Linked DNA regions of Homo sapiens: regions 2 and 3 are each linked to region 1. Evidence: fine-mapped expression QTL. A gene starts in region 1. Each other region holds a variant in brackets. All regions are shown on one strand. Distances are from middle to middle. Region 1 holds the start of SAMD4A-AS1 (SAMD4A antisense RNA 1). Region 2 overlaps SAMD4A (sterile alpha motif domain containing 4A). Region 3 overlaps SAMD4A (sterile alpha motif domain containing 4A).

The links. PIP is the estimated chance that this variant, and not a neighbour inherited with it, causes the effect. A credible set is the group of variants that fine-mapping cannot tell apart.
Region 2: its variant is the best candidate, but not a certain one, in a credible set for the expression of SAMD4A-AS1 in whole blood (INTERVAL, PIP 0.58).
Region 3: its variant is the best candidate, but not a certain one, in a credible set for the expression of SAMD4A-AS1 in whole blood (INTERVAL, PIP 0.70).

The regions. Positions count from the first base shown.
Region 1 is chr14:54,686,159-54,688,922 of GRCh38, reverse strand. SAMD4A-AS1 (SAMD4A antisense RNA 1) reads left to right here and starts at 1,013. Exons shown (of 3, transcript NR_187163.1): 1 at 1,013-1,623. The region is part of intron 2 of SAMD4A (sterile alpha motif domain containing 4A); the gene reads right to left.
Region 2 is chr14:54,695,854-54,698,617 of GRCh38, reverse strand. The region is part of intron 2 of SAMD4A (sterile alpha motif domain containing 4A); the gene reads right to left. Among named protein-coding and RNA genes, the nearest start is that of SAMD4A-AS1, 9.3 kb to the right of the region's middle. The variant T/C (reference allele first, on the strand shown) is at 1,159.
Region 3 is chr14:54,690,134-54,692,897 of GRCh38, reverse strand. The region is part of intron 2 of SAMD4A (sterile alpha motif domain containing 4A); the gene reads right to left. Among named protein-coding and RNA genes, the nearest start is that of SAMD4A-AS1, 3.6 kb to the right of the region's middle. The variant C/T (reference allele first, on the strand shown) is at 1,168.

The DNA.
Region 1 (2,764 bases):
CTTCTGGGACCCTCTCTATAGATCTACTGAATCAAAAACTGTGTTTAACCAGCCCCCTGATGATTTTGATCCAGGTTCACATTTGAGAACCCAAGAAAATCATGGCCTCCAATTGATAGCATTTGGAGGATCGAGTAAGGCTGATGTGAAACCAGGTGGGAACCATGATTTCTTACCAGGAGAAAGGCTAGGAGGAAGCAGTTGAAAGAGTGGCAAGGACCTATTTTTAGAGGAAGTTGTTGGATTTTTTTTTAAGTCAACAATAAATAAGCAAAATGTCATAATATTTCTAAGACAGGGCTGATCTCTCAAGTTTTCTATTCATAGCAACCTACCCAGTTAAAAGCAGCAATCGCTGCATCTAAGGATAGACAGGGAAGCCACGATTTGGCCCGTTTGGGTTTGAAGAGTGCCATAAGAATAAACAAAGTCTGGCCAAGCCTGTGCTGGCTCATGAATCAAACGAAGGTGAGAATTTCAGTTTTAAAGCATCTTTACCACAGGCTCACACCCTCACAAACCACCCCCACACAATCCCCAGTTATGTGCTGCTCCAAGGAGGAGAGTTGAGATGAGTCTGCAGAAGCCCAGAGAAGCCTGGGCGTGAGAGCCAGTACGTTACCTCTAAACGGTTGCTCCGGAGAACCGTTTGGTGAAGTTTGGTATCAACTCACTGGTCTGACGATGAACCCACAAGACATGCAGTAACAGGAGCAAAATTCTCTTGATTAGAGGACCATAATATTTTGCTGAGTTTAGGGGTGAGGGCACAGCTGCTGTCCAGGTTATACGGAGCTGAGCACATTACAGTTGAACCAGGTGTTAGGTGAAAAATTTGTGAGTTGATGGAATGATCACATAAGAGATTGCTCCATCTCCTCCCTCTCCACTTTGTCCTTCTCCTTTTCTTCCCTCCTCAGGTGTCCACTGGGCACAGCTCATCATTATTGAGTGTCTGGCTGGGTATTATGATGTCAGAGGCATCAGCCACAGAGGGTGATGCCTGAGAAGGGACAGCAGCCCAGCCCCATTCAGGGACACGTGGCCCTGATTTGAGCTCCTGTGACATCACGCTCCCTCCACTTATCTTACATGTCACATCTCAAACATTTAACATTTTACATCTCAAACATTTCTTGAGGCCCTTACCCTCCCATTCCCCCAAATCAATACGGCACTTAGGGGACACCAAGGCGCAGAGACACTTGCCCCAAATCATGCAGTAATGCCCTGGTGCCACCGTGAACAGTGCTGAAGCTTCCTGACCCCTTGTCCAGGGGACCTGGCTGCCTTTTATAGAAAGTTTCCACACACCTTCTATTCCTAACCTCGATCACAAGCATCGCCGGCCCAGATGCTCTGTGTCACCGGCTTAGTAACATACCCCATTTAGGAGCATGAGCACAACTTGTTTGCAGTGGGAATGAATTAACTGAATTCTAGATATTGTTTTTTGGCTGCCTTTTTTTGTTTGTTTTTATTTCAAACACAGCTAACTAATCAGGGCTGTGGACACCAAGAATGCCAACTTTGATTCTTCAAGGAAAATCAGCAGCTGACCACACACCACCCTTCCTGGTCCTCCCCGAGATGCCAAGAACATCCAAAGTCTGCAGTTTTGAGGTAAGAAGAAATACTTGGTTCATAACTGCCCATGGAGGGGCAGGATCCATCTTTTCTCTTTCTTATTTTGCAAGATGACATTAAGAGGAACAGTGCTGAGAAAATGGAAGATAATCTAAAAAACAAAGGTCATCACTTCTTTATATAATGTTAGAAGTTTTCTGTATGTCTTGACCTTGAGGTCTAAAATGGGTAGAGCCTTTGGAGGAGAAGAGATCAAGCCCCTTGGAGTCAGTCAGGGGAAGGGCAGATGTATAACCCCTATCACAGGGTCAGCTCCATGAATCACTGCACAGATCCCACTGCCAAAATCAAGCCCCGGAAAGCACAAAGATTGGAAGAACTGGCTTATTTATCAAACAACTGATGGGCCAGGGCAGGGAGCAACTCCCAGCCAATAAGGTGACTTGGTTTCTCAAAATGACATAAGTACATTTCAACTGTGTAGTAAATAAAACAAAATTTCATTATAAAAGGGCCCCAACTGTCCCCCATGTGATCTGCCTCTGCTGCCTCCTCATGTGACTGGCCTCCCAATTTAGCGCGTAACCAACTCCCAATGACCTGTAATAACACTATTCCCAAATTAGAGCTCTCAATTTGACTTGGCTTCGGTCCCTCCCTCAAAGCAAAATAAAGCATCCGTTTTCTTTTTTTCACATTCATAATACTCTCCTTTTGAGTTGCCAACTCAAACCCTGTTTCAGTCAGATTGAGCCCTTCCTCTATTTTTTTTTTTTCTGGTTAGCCAAAGAGCCCGATGGAAAAACACCAAGAGACAAAAACAAAAACAAAATCAGACAAAAATTCCAAGTAAGTGACATTCAGCTGGAAAAGCTATGATTCACATGCAAATAAAAATCTCCCTGAATTCACTGTTATATGACGCAAGCCCCTGGCTGCGACATAAAAAGGGCAGAATGAAATCACCCACAATTAAACTTGCTCTGGAATACTGGAATTCTCTGGCTAGGCCTTCCCGACTAATGATAAGAAAACCCCCAACTGTAGCAGAATGAAGCTAATTGTGTTGGGAGCCAGGGCATCCCCACCTCAGCTGATATTCACTCCTGAAACTTCCCAACCCAGCACTCCCCATCCTCACCCACTCCCTCACCCACATTCAGAATAACCTGCATGG
Region 2 (2,764 bases), 9.7 kb before region 1:
AGAGCCAACAGTATTGAATGTTTTCGAAGTGCCAGGCACTCTTCTAAGCCCTGTGCATTTAATTACTCACTTAATCCTCCCAAGAAGCTTATGAGGTAGGTCCTATTACTAGCCTTCTTTTACAGATGAAGGCACAGGGGCACAAATGGGCCAAGTTACTTGCCCCCAGCCCCCTGCTAGTGAAGTGGCAGAATGGAGGTAGGCAAATTTGATATTAGATACATAATGGCTGTCCTGCTACAACAGCGTGGCCATAAGCCAAATATATTGATATTTATAACATAATTAGATGTTCTATAGTTATATGATACAGAATTACATATAAATGCATACAAATATGTAATAGTTATAAACATTATATAAATGTATTAATAGAGTACATGGATAATCACAGTTGGTGAGCAACAGAAGTATAATAAAAAGGAGTTACAGAGACAATGTAAGTTATACCTATTGTGGTTTAAAATATGTTAACTATTTATTTGACACACCTCTTTGAAAGGTGGAGCCTAATTCCCTTCCTTCTGAGTGCAGGTTGGATTCAGTGAGTCACTTTCAGTAAATAGAATGTAGGGGAAATGGCGGTATGTGACTTTATGGATTAGGTTATAAAAGGCATTATGGCCTCCCCTTGCTGTCTCCGAGTACTCACTCTGGGGAAAGCCAGCTGCCATGTTGTGACATCATGCAAGCAACCCAATGGGGAGGTCCTTGTAGTGAGGAACCGAGGCCTCGTGCCAATACCTAGCACCAAGTTGCCAGCCATATGAGGGAACCATCTTGGAAGCAGATCTCCTAGCCCAGATAAGCCTTTGGACAACTGCAGCCCACATACCATTTTGAGGAATCCTAAGCCAGAATCTCTCATATTTCTGACCCACAGAAACTGTGTAACATGTTTATTGTTTTAAGCTGCTAAGTTAATTAATACACTATCCAACTGTCCCTCTAGGTAAAAGGAAGTTTTAGCCACTTGGTTTTGAATACATCAGTCTTTCTGGCAAAGCCATTCCCATTCTGGCATGGACCCATGAAGTTCCCGTTGCCACTAAACATTTCCCTTCCTCAGCGCCCCCGTCCTGATTATCCACTCACAAAACAACCTTTGGACCATGATTTAGCTCCCCAGCTACCCTCAAGGAGAGAATGAACTGATCA[T/C]AGAGACTTGAGGTATTTCCAAAATCTGTGATAATGATTTGTCAGGGCAACTTAATACATAATTTCTGATTATGATTTGGCTTCCTGTGGAGGCCTGCCGACAAGGACAATGTGTGCTGATTATATGGACTTGGAGTACGTCTGGTCTCTCTGATGATGGCTCCTCGTGGCAAATTAACCAGCCAGCATTGCAGTGTCTACCTCCCTGCTTTCTAGTTAGCATGAGTCAGTCTTTCAGGAGAGTATCCCCAGGGTGCTGACAAGCGTGAACATCTCTACCTTCAAACGGAAGCCAGACCCTACATGCAGGGACTTGGTCACACTGGCTAGGTCCTGTCCAACTGCCCACTGGCCTCTGTGGCATCCACACTATCTTCCAGAGAGCAAAGAATCTTTGCTGAGATTTGCATTTGACAAATTCTCCTCCCTGGGGAAGATGCAGGAATCCTCAGAATTTTCAATTAATTGATCACTTCTGAGATCCAGTCTCTACCATTACTCACCCCAATATCACCTGATTCAGGACACAGTGGAAAACTTAAGTGCAAGAACTTCAAGGTTTGATGATGTCAGCTCACCTCTACTATGTTTTCTGAATATTTTCTTTGTTATTTCTCTGTATAAGGAGCAGAGATGTAACAGTTCTATTACATGGATGTTTAATGTGGATAAAAGTTAATGATTTATAATTTGTAAACCAGTGACATAGGAGTAGTAAAAAAAATTAGAAGAGCTATAATTAAAGACCATGAGGATTAGGAAACTGTCCCAATGATTTTTGGAGTGACAAAGAGTGTGTTTAAATACCAAGTCTGGTATTATTGCTACACAATGGTATGTCAATGCTTAAGGGCTCTAGTTGTTAGTAAATTACTCTTAAATTGCTATTTTATTATACCCTTGTTTTCAGTTTAATAACGTTTGCCATAAAAGGGTTTCTCACAAGCGCATTTAGGCAATTTGCTCATGCAAGAAATGGCTAGGAATTAAATGCACACACAGAAGAAGTACTGGTGAAATAAATGTGCTAAAAGGCAGGAATATTGGTGGGTTTTACATGGTCAAAGACTCCTTGGAAGAATGTTACAAAGTCAATCCTAGACACATCATGTACTAAAAGCTTCTAAATATAGTGCAACTCTGCACAACTCAAAAGTGGATAACCACACACACCATGTATTTATTTGTAGAGATATTTTTCAGCCCAGGGCACCTGAAAAATCAGGGCAAAAATACCAACATGGCAAATGGTGGGATTCTTGTGTTGGCACCTGCACTTGAGTTTGTCTCCCAAGGTACCCTCTTGAGCTAGAGGTGACCAGAGAAGAATCCCCATAATTTGGTGGGAGCCCTGCTAGTGGTATGGATTAGACCAGTTGTGATGGGGAACCCAGTCTGGAGTTATGAGCCCTTACAGCTGCAAGTAGTGTTTTGAAAAGGTACAAAGGATTGAAAAGATATAAACCCTCCCCCTATTTTCTTTTTCTTTTTTTTTTTTTTTTTTTTCTGAGATGGAGTCTCACTCCGTCACCAGGCTGGAGCACAGTGGCATGGTCTTGGCTCACTGTAACCTCCGCCTCCTGGGTTCAAGCGATTCTCCTGATTC
Region 3 (2,764 bases), 4.0 kb before region 1:
TGATTTTTTTGCGGGGGGGGGCACTAAGTGATTGTTTCAATAAGGCCTCATAGGAATGGGTCTCCTAAGAGTTATATAAATTAGAGATGAAAAAAATGTTACCTCACTCGACAAACACAAGACACATTCTTGTAAACCACACTCGACTAGTTTTTTACACCAAAAACCCCTCAGAGGAGAGGCTGGAAGTGTTCTAAACACAGGAAGCTTTCCCACTCTCTAATCTTCAGCGCCGCCCTCACACTCCAGACCACCACTGCCAAAACCCCACACACCACAGAGTGACACTCCAATAGTACCTTAAAATAATGAATTAGCAATCCTCATGCTGACCTTGCAAAGGAGAAAAGTGTGCTTTCTGCTTCTACACTTAGATTTAGCCCCTGTTGCACAAGAGGCTCTAGACATGAGAGTCCCAAAAGGAGCACGGCATTGTCCACGTAACCTAACTGCAATAATATTTTACAAAGAACTCCAAGGCCAGCATCCTTGGCAATGTCCAGACAGTCAACAGAGGAGTATCTTGGGAGGAGTATAAACAGACTGAATCACAAAAGAATAGTTCATGCTTAATTCAGTGGAGCAAACGGAACAACAGCCATGCCACACAACAGGTTTATACACCTCAGGAAGTCTGGGAAGGGCTGGAGTGCACACATCCCACCCCTGACACCAGGGAGCCATTCTATATCTTTACATGACTGTGAACTGTGAAGTCACTGGGTCCCACGCTTTCTAAAATAACGAGGAAGTTGCTCAACAACTTATAGACAAAATTTCCCAACTCAAGAGATGGGATCCAAAGTGTAAGTGTGAATGTAAGAGCCCTGTGGTGTGGTGTGTAACCATGTAAATATTGTCACCAAGGAACAGCATGTAGATATTCCCAAAATATGCATGTTAGCAATGTTGATAGTAAAATGTATGTATCACTCATTTAGGTATGAAATATGAAATACACGTACAAGTCATCCAATGGGGGACAGAATGAACAATTTTGTGGAGGCAGGATATTCGAGTCCATAGTCACAAATTAACTGATACTCTTTTTGGAAAGAAAGGCCTGGCTAACTGTACAAGGACAGAGTTGGGTGACCCTGGAACATATTCAGCCTGGCTCTCCTGTCCTCCTGGGGCACAGCCCTGTAGAGGGAGCTAGAGGCACAC[C/T]TCCCTTCCTGCTTCCCCTCCAGCCGCCAGCCAATGCTGGGAATTTCTGCAACAGTAAGCAGTAAAAGGCTGCTGATTTTCACCTGTTACTTGTGCACCAAACTCATTTTCAGGTTAGTAGGTCTATTGATGCAATCAGAATAAGATTTTTCAGATTTTTTTTTTTTTTTTTTTTTTTTTTGAGAAGGGAAGCTACTTTTTCATTGCTGAAGTCCTTGGGCAGTGGGTAAGAAGAAAAGGTAGGAAGGATGATGGTGAAGAATGCACTTCTCTAAATAGGAATGAGAATGGCTGAGGCCATTTCCCTCCTTCTGGGTATCCTGCCATGAAATTGAGTAGACCTAGGGCTCAGTGGCTGGACCAGAATCAGGAGGACTGATCAGATGAGGGCCCTTGGCTTTGGCCACATTGGTGGGGATGCTACAGAAGGAGACAAGACCTCAGAGCTCATAGGGATAATGTCTCCAGACAAGGGCCTCATCCTTCCCAAGTTGCAAGCATGCTGCCATCTAGAATTCTACAACAAAGGCAGGCACAAAAACAGTGAGAGGGCTCAGGCAGGGAAAGGTAAGGGGGAGCAGAAAGGCCCAGTAGGACGGAGAGGAGCAGACGCAGAGGCAGAGTTGAGAACCTTGTCTACAGACCCACACAGCCCAGTGCAGGCAGGCCTGTGGGCTGTGTTGTAAGCACCCTGCACTGCTGAGAAGCTGGAGAGAGGACAAACCTGGCAGGAAGGAGCTCCTTCCTGGAAACAAACCTTCTAAACTCTATGGAGGAAGGCAGAAGGCAGCAAGGGGCCCCTATGTCCAGGGAGTTTGGAAACTAACCATTGTCTGCCCTCCCTCAACTCTACCCCAGGGTCTGAGACACATGGCTCAGTGAGGAGAAAGACAAAGCTAACTTCTAGCCACAATGGTTCTGAGCTGGGAGTGACAGCACTGGCCTACTGTGTTGTTTGAATCTAGCTTCATACCATCACCTTTGGAAGTGGTTGTATTTATTAATCTATCAGATATCTGTCTTTGGTTCCTATCAATGTATATGGCCTAGTGCTAGGATCTGTCCTTTTCAATGACATTTGTGGTATCAGAGATAGCCAAAGGGAAAGTTTTGTACCCATAGAAGTGTCTGTAACACAAATAACTTGGGGAGAATCAGACCAATGGGGTAGAGAAATACTTGGAGAAGGGCTCCATTTCTAGAACCAACAGGCAACACTGTAAGGAGTAGAATCCATCTTCTAAAGTACTCCTAGGCCCTCCAGCCAGGACTCAACACATTATTTGGCAGAAAAAAAAAAAGAGCTTAGTCTATTATCACTATACCAGTGGAGACTTAACCTCTGGCTGTTTGAATCTCAAAAGAGATCACTATTATTTATCATTACATACTCTCTGCTGTAGATATGTCTTGGACACATCTGAACCCTCCCCCTCCTGCTCCTATCATCATCTGTGATGTAGTTTAAGAATCCACCTCTCTCCCCAAATGCCATTTACCCATTTGGGCCCTCATTGCCTTTTCTCTACCACAATTGAGCTCAGTGACTTGCATATCTGTATAACACCCCCCCCACTTCACCCCTCCTTGTGGGTGG